Linked DNA regions of Homo sapiens. The protein of the gene in region 1 interacts with the protein of each later gene in a pairwise test. Each region holds a gene or a part of one and is shown on either strand. Other genes may lie near its edges.

The links.
Region 2: the proteins of MAP2K6 (region 1) and CCND2 come close enough for resonance energy transfer, tested with the Homo sapiens proteins (one large-scale study listed by BioGRID).

What each region holds. Positions count from the first base shown.
Region 1 is NC_000017.11:69,550,544-69,554,530, reverse strand, and holds the end of MAP2K6 (dual specificity mitogen-activated protein kinase kinase 6), read right to left. Parts: 3' UTR 666-3,987; downstream 1-665. UniProt on the Homo sapiens protein: Dual specificity protein kinase which acts as an essential component of the MAP kinase signal transduction pathway.
Region 2 is NC_000012.12:4,276,573-4,280,390, reverse strand, and holds part of CCND2 (G1/S-specific cyclin-D2), read right to left. Parts: intron 1,632-3,818; coding exon 1,472-1,631; intron 1-1,471. UniProt on the Homo sapiens protein: Regulatory component of the cyclin D2-CDK4 (DC) complex that phosphorylates and inhibits members of the retinoblastoma (RB) protein family including RB1 and regulates the cell-cycle during G(1)/S transition.

The DNA.
Region 1 (3,987 bases):
GGCTGGCCTCAAACTCCTGAGCTCAGGCAATCTGCCTGCCTCTGCCTCCCAAAGTGCTAGGACTACAGGTGTGAGCCACCACGCTTGGCCTTGAAATGATTTTCTAATGAGTCTTCAGGGCGGCTGATATGGTTTGGCTGTGTCCCCACCCAAATTATTTTAGCTCCCATAATTCCCATGTGTTGTGGGAGGGACCCAGTGGGAGATAATTGAATCATGGAGGCAGTTTCCCTCATACTGTTCTCATGAGAGTGAGTAAGTCTCAAGAGATTTGAGGGTCTTATGAGGGGTTACCCTTTTGCTGGGCTCTCTCTCTCCTCTTGTCTACCACCATGTTGAGACATGCCTTTCGTCTTACACTGTGATTGTGAAGCCTCCCCAGCCACGTGGAACTGTGAGTACATTAAACCACTTTCTTTCGTTAATTGCACAGTCTCAGTTATGTTTTTATCAGCAGCATGAAAACAGACTAATACGACTGCAATACTGTTGTGTTGTTAGGTTTTGTTCTAGTCTGTTTGGGAAGTGCGGTGGTAGAAATAGGAAAAGCATAGAGAAAGAATAACAAGAATATATAGTCCAGGAAAGCTTTTACCGGGAGAGCCTTTTATACCATGTTCCTGGAATATAGGGTTTCCAACAACTCAATTAATGTACAGACTCACTACGCTTTTTAAAATGTCTTTTATTGGTTGTACATTTTCTTATGAGATCAACACACCATTTTCTTTCAAGAACACTTTGCTCCTGAATACTTAATGTTACTTGTCCCAGCTATGAAAGCCATAGCAAGCACTTTGACGGAAAAAGGTGGTTGGGTGTTTTTTTTGCCATTATCACTGTCTTCTCTATCGTTAAACTGTTGTTTGAGTCAGTTTGTAGATTGACACAACATTGAACACAACACACACGGTGTGAAGTTTTACACGCATATACACACATCTGGAGACCAGTTACAGTGTCTGCAGCTTGTTCCTTTCTCCTCAGCAGTATGAAACTGAAGAATATCCTGAGATAGGAAGTCAACGTGAAAGTTCCTCATTAAAAGAGGAGGTCAAGCTTGATTTAATCTCCCAATTTCATTTTCTTTTTGAGGTGGTCAGAGGGGACCCAGAACGGTAGCCAGATGAACCGTGGAACAACCACATGGTTTAATATCTCAGCTGTTTCCTTGGTCAAAAACACAGATTCACAGAAATATTTCATGGCACATCAGAAACCTACTTTTTAAAAATATGATCTTGGATTAGAAAGGAGGGAAATGAAAAGGTTGTTTTTTACTAGATGTGATGGGAAATCCCACCACAGAATGACCTACATACTTGTAAGGCAAAATTACCCTCACCTTTGGCAATTATTATACTTCCTTGTCTACTGACTGATAGAAGTCAATCATCCAGTCTTGTCCCCCATCAATGTTATTTGCATGAAAAGATGAATTTCTCAAGAATAGGGACCCAGGACAGGTGGCTTCTCCAAATGTTAAAAAGAAACATAATTTCTTTAAAGCTACATTATCCCTCAATTCAGTATATTTCTGGGAACACTAACAAAACTTAACCTATGTTAACACCAATGCTTATATCTACTGCAAGTCCTGCATACTGGCTATTTCCTTGGCTTTGGGATTTGGAGATAACATCATTAATAATGATAAACAATAGTTCAAATGAAAAAAAAAATGCACACAACCTGGGTGACAGGAAAGCTAGCCTAAAATGAAAATGTTTGGAGCCACCAAAGCCAACAGGCAAAGAAAACAAAGGCATGCTGTCCCACAAAACAGGTATTTTAAATACAATCCTGAGGCCTTATTGAAGTTATCACTTGATGCTCATATATTTCCATATAGAAAAACACAGTTAGATATACACCCCCAACTCCTTCTTTCCTTCTTCAGCTCACAAGCAAAGAGTTCCCAAAGGCCAGAATTTAAATTTAATATTCACCTCAAGAGCATGGAAACATTCCACCCACATGCTTTACAGGTCTTTACTTTATAAACTTCTAATGAGTTTCATGCTCTACAGTTCAGCCTGCCTCATTCACAAAGAGACAATGCGGCAATCCGTAAAGAAGAGATGATTCCAACCAGAAAAAGCTGCACCTGGCAGGAAAGATGGGAGCCTCAATGAGGGAATCCACTGAATAGCATTCATTCTTTTATTTTAAACTCTCCAGAGACACTACTTTGAAGTGCTGGAGGTGGGTTTTGAAAGACAGGGGTGCATAGGACCTCTCCGATATCCTTTCAGAATATTTCAGGTACCAAGAAGAGGTAGCAAGCTCCTAACTAGCTTATGGAACTACCTCATTCTAGCATCAGGGCATTTTCCACTTGCCCAAAGGCTCTCTTTGCAATAAACATGGTTTGAAAATAACTTTAGGGTGCAACAGGCAAACAATCAATCATATATACAAATAACATGTGTCTATCACAAAATTTACAGAAGGTAAGAAAACGTGTTGTTGTGTTTCCTTACAAAGTCCATATTAATAAACGGAAGCAGCATTTTCAGCTATGAAACTGAAGCACAAAGAAAGCTGAAGAAATCCACCTCTTTTATTAAAATTCTTGTAAAGTTCAATTCCATAAAGAAATTCTAGTGTCTCATCAAGATTTTCACAAAATATATAGAAAACTGTTCATGTATTTAAATAATGTGAAACTACATTCCTAACACCTCTTTCAGCTTTAAATGACTCAATTTGATGATTCAGTATCATAGGAAGTATGTCCTAGTTGTGTAAGCAAATTACACAAAAAAATACTTTTCCTCTAAAAATACCTATTATTCTATTAAAACATCATTTCAGTTCATATAGAAAATCAGTCCACTCAGAAAATAAATTTGAGACTAAAGAATAAATCAAACACAGAGGTAATACAGGAGATAAACACAATTTTCTTAATCAAACCTCCTCAAGTGGCTTTTATGCAGATTGGCCAAGAACACTATAAACTGCTGCCCAATGTAAATTTTTGGCACATATAGTTTTCTAAAACAGTTGCTGTGAAACCCCAGCTATTAAATTTGCTCTAGTGGCAAACAGAACACTGTCAGAATTCACCAGACTCTTTATGTGTGTGTACAAGGCACCTGATATGACTCAGCTGGTGTTTAAGCATTCCCTTGTGTGCAGTTCATGACAGATACACCACCATAGCTTCCAACTTCTAAAGGCTGTACCAGGTTTCCATTACCCTTCTCCACCTACAACACCTTTGCAAAAGGCAGCAAGGGGTAGCTCTGTTAGCTTGAGTCTCAGACCGTACCCCTGTCTGTGTCAACATTGTCCAAAGGATTTGCTTTTTTCTGATAGGTCAATGAACAAAAACGGTAACTCCTGCCTCTGCAAACCTAGAGATGCAAAAATTCCACTGCATATGAAGAGCCCAGTCACTCCACGCCTTGTCACTGAGACGGTGAACAAAGATCAGGTCATTCTCAACCACTTTAGGAAAATGTCGCATGTAAGGATCTATAATGCATGGCTGTCATACAACAATTCCTTGCATTTTTCTTTCAAAATGATTTATGCTCAATTAAAATTAAATGACCCTGTCTTCTGGCCACCTATCTCCCTATCTCTGTGAGCATACTCAGTACGGCAAAAGCCAGGGACTCACAGCCGTGGTTGGCTATAAAATTTCCCATATTTGAGACTGTTTAAAGTCCTAAAGTGGTCATTTAATCCAACGTTCCCAAGTTTTTAATGGCCACAGAGACTTCCAGTTAAAAGGAACAATACTAGAAGCCAGATATTCTGACTGGAGGTTGACAGAGGTTCAGATAGGCAGAGTTCACCTTCATCACACTCTTTTTCCCTTCTGTTCACAAGAGACCCTCAGGGGCACCACTGAATATGGTCTGAAAACCACAGCTGTACCTCGCTCTTATCTCCCCAAGTATTGAACATACAACAGGACAAACAACTTGAGATCAGAAAAATAAAATAAAATAAAAAACTACTCCTTCCCCATAA
Region 2 (3,818 bases), on another chromosome or scaffold:
TAGATGAACAGGCAGGGGGCCGGGAGGACTCCACACTCAAGCCTGCAAGTGCAGAACACACAGGTCCTGCTAGAAACACGTAAGGGCAGCCAGAAAAGGAAAGCCATCATATCCACTTTAGTCGGAACAGTTAAAATCAGGGTGAAAATCGGAGATGGTAGCATTTTCACAATTAGTGAAGGTCCAACCTACACTTCGGTTTACAAAGCACGTCCACGTGCATCACCTCTTTCTGATTTTAATTTTCCTAGCTGCTCTGAAAAGGCTGTAGGATGATGTATCAATAGGCTTGTTTTGGAGATGAAGAAGCTCGGGTTCAGAGAGGTTAAGCAGCCAATTAAAGGTCACTCACTGATATGCAGCAAAGCCTGACTTTTTGACTGTGAGCACAGGGCATATGCACTACATCGTACGTTATATAATCATCCGTTCCGTAGAACTCACCAGTAACATGTAACAACATCCTGAAAAAAGTTACCACGTGAGTCCACCTAGCGATTTAACTACTCTTGGCAAATTTGAGGTGAAGCACACCGAAAGGTCTTCCCAAGTGATCAGCTTTTTACCTAAGGTTTCTGATTGTCAAAACATGAACTCCTGACATCTCTCCCTTGGATGAGTAAGGTTCCAGGGTCTCTGCCATGGCCACTACCAAGAAAAAAAAAAACAAAAAACCAGTAGACACTGGCCAAGGCTGTTTAATAAGACAACAGCAAACCACTGCCTTTGGTTTATTAGGAAACTACAAAACAAATGGGCCAGTAGGAATGATGTATCAATTGTGGGATCCACGTGGTAGGCGGAATTGCAACGTTAAAGGCTGCGGCCAAAATCAAAACACCTCCACATGAACTGAGGGCATCAGAACCCAGCGCTCAGAAAGTAAAGCCTCACCGAAAGCCAACCAGGTTCCCTCCCGCGCCCAGTGGGGCAAACAGCTAGAGAAGCAAACAGCTAGAAGGCCATAAATGCCCTACAGTAAAAAAAAAAAAAAAAGAATTTCTTTGGTCTCCCTTACCACTAATCAAGGCAGGCAGCATATTTATCTTGACGTTGTTCCTTTAACCTGTATTTGCCCCCATCCCCCTCGAGATTTCCTCTTGGGCTTATCTCCAAGCCATCCTTTTCCTTAAAAGATTAAAGATTTGAACACAACCAGTGAGCAGTATATGTAATCTTCAAAGAGCACTTTAGCCATCATAAAGAATATTTTAACAGGCACTAATTTTTTTTGCCTTAACCACACCTGTCCTCATAAACCATTTATGAGTTTAGCAGAGAAAGCGAATATATAAAGCTCAGATAAAGAAAAAGCAACCCAGGAATGAAACTTCAGACTTTAGACTACTCAAGACCACCCCTCCTCCAAACTCCTGAACTAAAATGAAAGTTCCTACGGCCTTTTGCCTCTCCCCGGACATCTCCCAAAAGAGCTCCCCCATCTCCCTCCCCGGCTCAAGCCTCATCTTACCGGTGGCACACAGAGCAATGAAGGTCTGAGCATGCTTGCGGATCAGAGACAGCTTCTCCCGCTGCTGGGGCAGCTTGCGCAAGATGTGCTCAATGAAGTCATGAGGAGTGACAGCTGCCAGGTTCCACTTCAACTTCCCCAGCACCACCAGTTCCCACTCCTGGAGGGGAAGGCAGGAAGAGAAGAGGAGAATCTAAATTCCACAGGCTGACCTGGTGTAGGGGGCTGGGGGTTGGGCTCCAGACCAGTTTTAAGGCCGCTCATTAGGACGTGGCTGCTAGATTGTAAGGCGGGCCCATTTGTCAATGTGCCCCTGAAGCTTTGAAGTTGTTGACAGCTCTTCTTATGCTTCAAATGTCAGGCTCCACTGAAAATAATGAGAGCCCAGGTAGCTGTTGCCAAGATTCTATTTTCTTCTACTTCGTTTCCACTCCAGCTCCCCTTACCCCCTCCCAACCCTGACTTGCAGGCAATACTGCTTCCCGCCCACCCAGAAAGCTGAACCTACAATGAGATACGGCCAAGGTCATTGTGGCCCTTTCATGGTAATTTATTGTATATGTCTCTATCACCGAATTAATAGTCTTTTTAATCTTCATGGAAAAATGATGCACACAGATAAAGCTCAAAATAAGGTTCCTTGGCCCAACTCCTTGGCAACCAATTAGCTTGCTTTTACTTAGTGCCAAAAAGTGCCTTTATCTCTCTGCTGCTCAAACTCCCCTTTTACATATCAGGCAGAAATTCTGGGGATGTGACACTCAGCCCTTTCCCCTAAATGTTTCACAGGCCATTGTCATCATGACTAAAGGACCACATGGTCATTAGCAACCTCATTTTGCAGATGGAGGTGATCTGGGGCAAGGTGAGGGTGCCTGCTCAGTGTCACAGCATCCCTCAGTGCAAGTGTGGGGACCACACAACCCTGTCTCTTGGGTCTCTCACCAGCAACCCACCTGAAAAAGAACCTTGTTTCCCTCTTTCACTGAGATACTTACGGGAAACTGTGCTCAAAGGGAAACGGTCCAAAATAAAACATTAAAAATATCGTATGTGCTACCAGAAAATATGCCTATCCACTGAGCTGTCATCAGAAGAATGAGAGGCAGGGCCTGTTTGCCAATGCACCCTCTCTCCCATTCACCTGGAGAACCTGGAATCTCTTTCATTTGCTAAACCAGCAACCAGAGCACCAGTCCCACAGCTGTGGGGCTGGGGGTGATTCCCTTTCCCTCCCAGGCCTCAGCCTTCTCATTTGTAAAATAGGACTCTTCCAAATCCCAACTTCTGGGATAAAGGGAATAGGAAAAAGCCAAGTTTGTTTGTAGCAATATATTGCTTGGCTAGTCCTGGAAAGATTTGGGTGTCCTGAAGAACATCTCAATTCACCATCCTCTCGAAACAAATGAACCATATGAAGATGATTTTTCCTGCTCTCTCATGAGAAAAACAAATTGGTTCCCAATTCTAACAATGTTTTCTTCATAAGCTTTAAAATCTGCCTTGGCTTTCTGTGTACAGCCGGGGTAAAGCACCCCAATAAACTACTAAACCACCATCATCTTCAAAGATGGCTTGAAATGCCAGCCCTTCCTCTTCACAGGGTAATGCGAGTACGAACCACTGGTCTTGCACCGTTATTAAAGGAAGCAGATCTCCCAGAAGAAAGCACCTTTCTAGGCCTCTCGGACCAAACCAGAAGCAGCTAAAACCTGGCAGCGGTTCAAAGGTGAAGTCATTCAGGCCCCTCTCCACATTCTCGGCAATTCCTCCCCCAACCTTGTGCATGTCTTCCACTAGATGGCAGCAGAGCCCCAGAAAGGAAGGCTCCTCACAAAGAGCTCAGTTCAAGAAGCCAGCCTCAGCCCTGTGGACTTTGTGCGGGCCCTACCAGTGAGGAGGGGGAGGGGCGGGAAGGAGGGGGTGCTTTTCTGAACAGTGCAAAGAGGGGTGTGCAAACCACCGAAGGTGGGCCTTGGAGCCGCTATTCCATGCGGTACAGCTGCAATATGGTCGTCTTATATGTCAAGCTGCAGGGAAAAGGAGTTAGATCAGGTGGGAAAAAGGTTCCCTGGTAGAAAAGCAGAGATAAGACAGGATCCCTGGGGTTGTACAGAGGTCACAGTCCCACTGGAGGTAGGAACCCAGGCCTCGGACTCCTTCAGTGAAAGGCCACATTTTGACTTTGCTCAAAAGTCAATGAACTGATATTTAGTGAACAGCTATTATGTGTTGGTATCTTGAGACTTTGTAGATATAGAGGGCATTACCTTTGAACTCCAAGTTTTTAGGAGACACCACAGCCACATACCTATCATGTGAACACGTTCTCAGACTATTTTTGGAA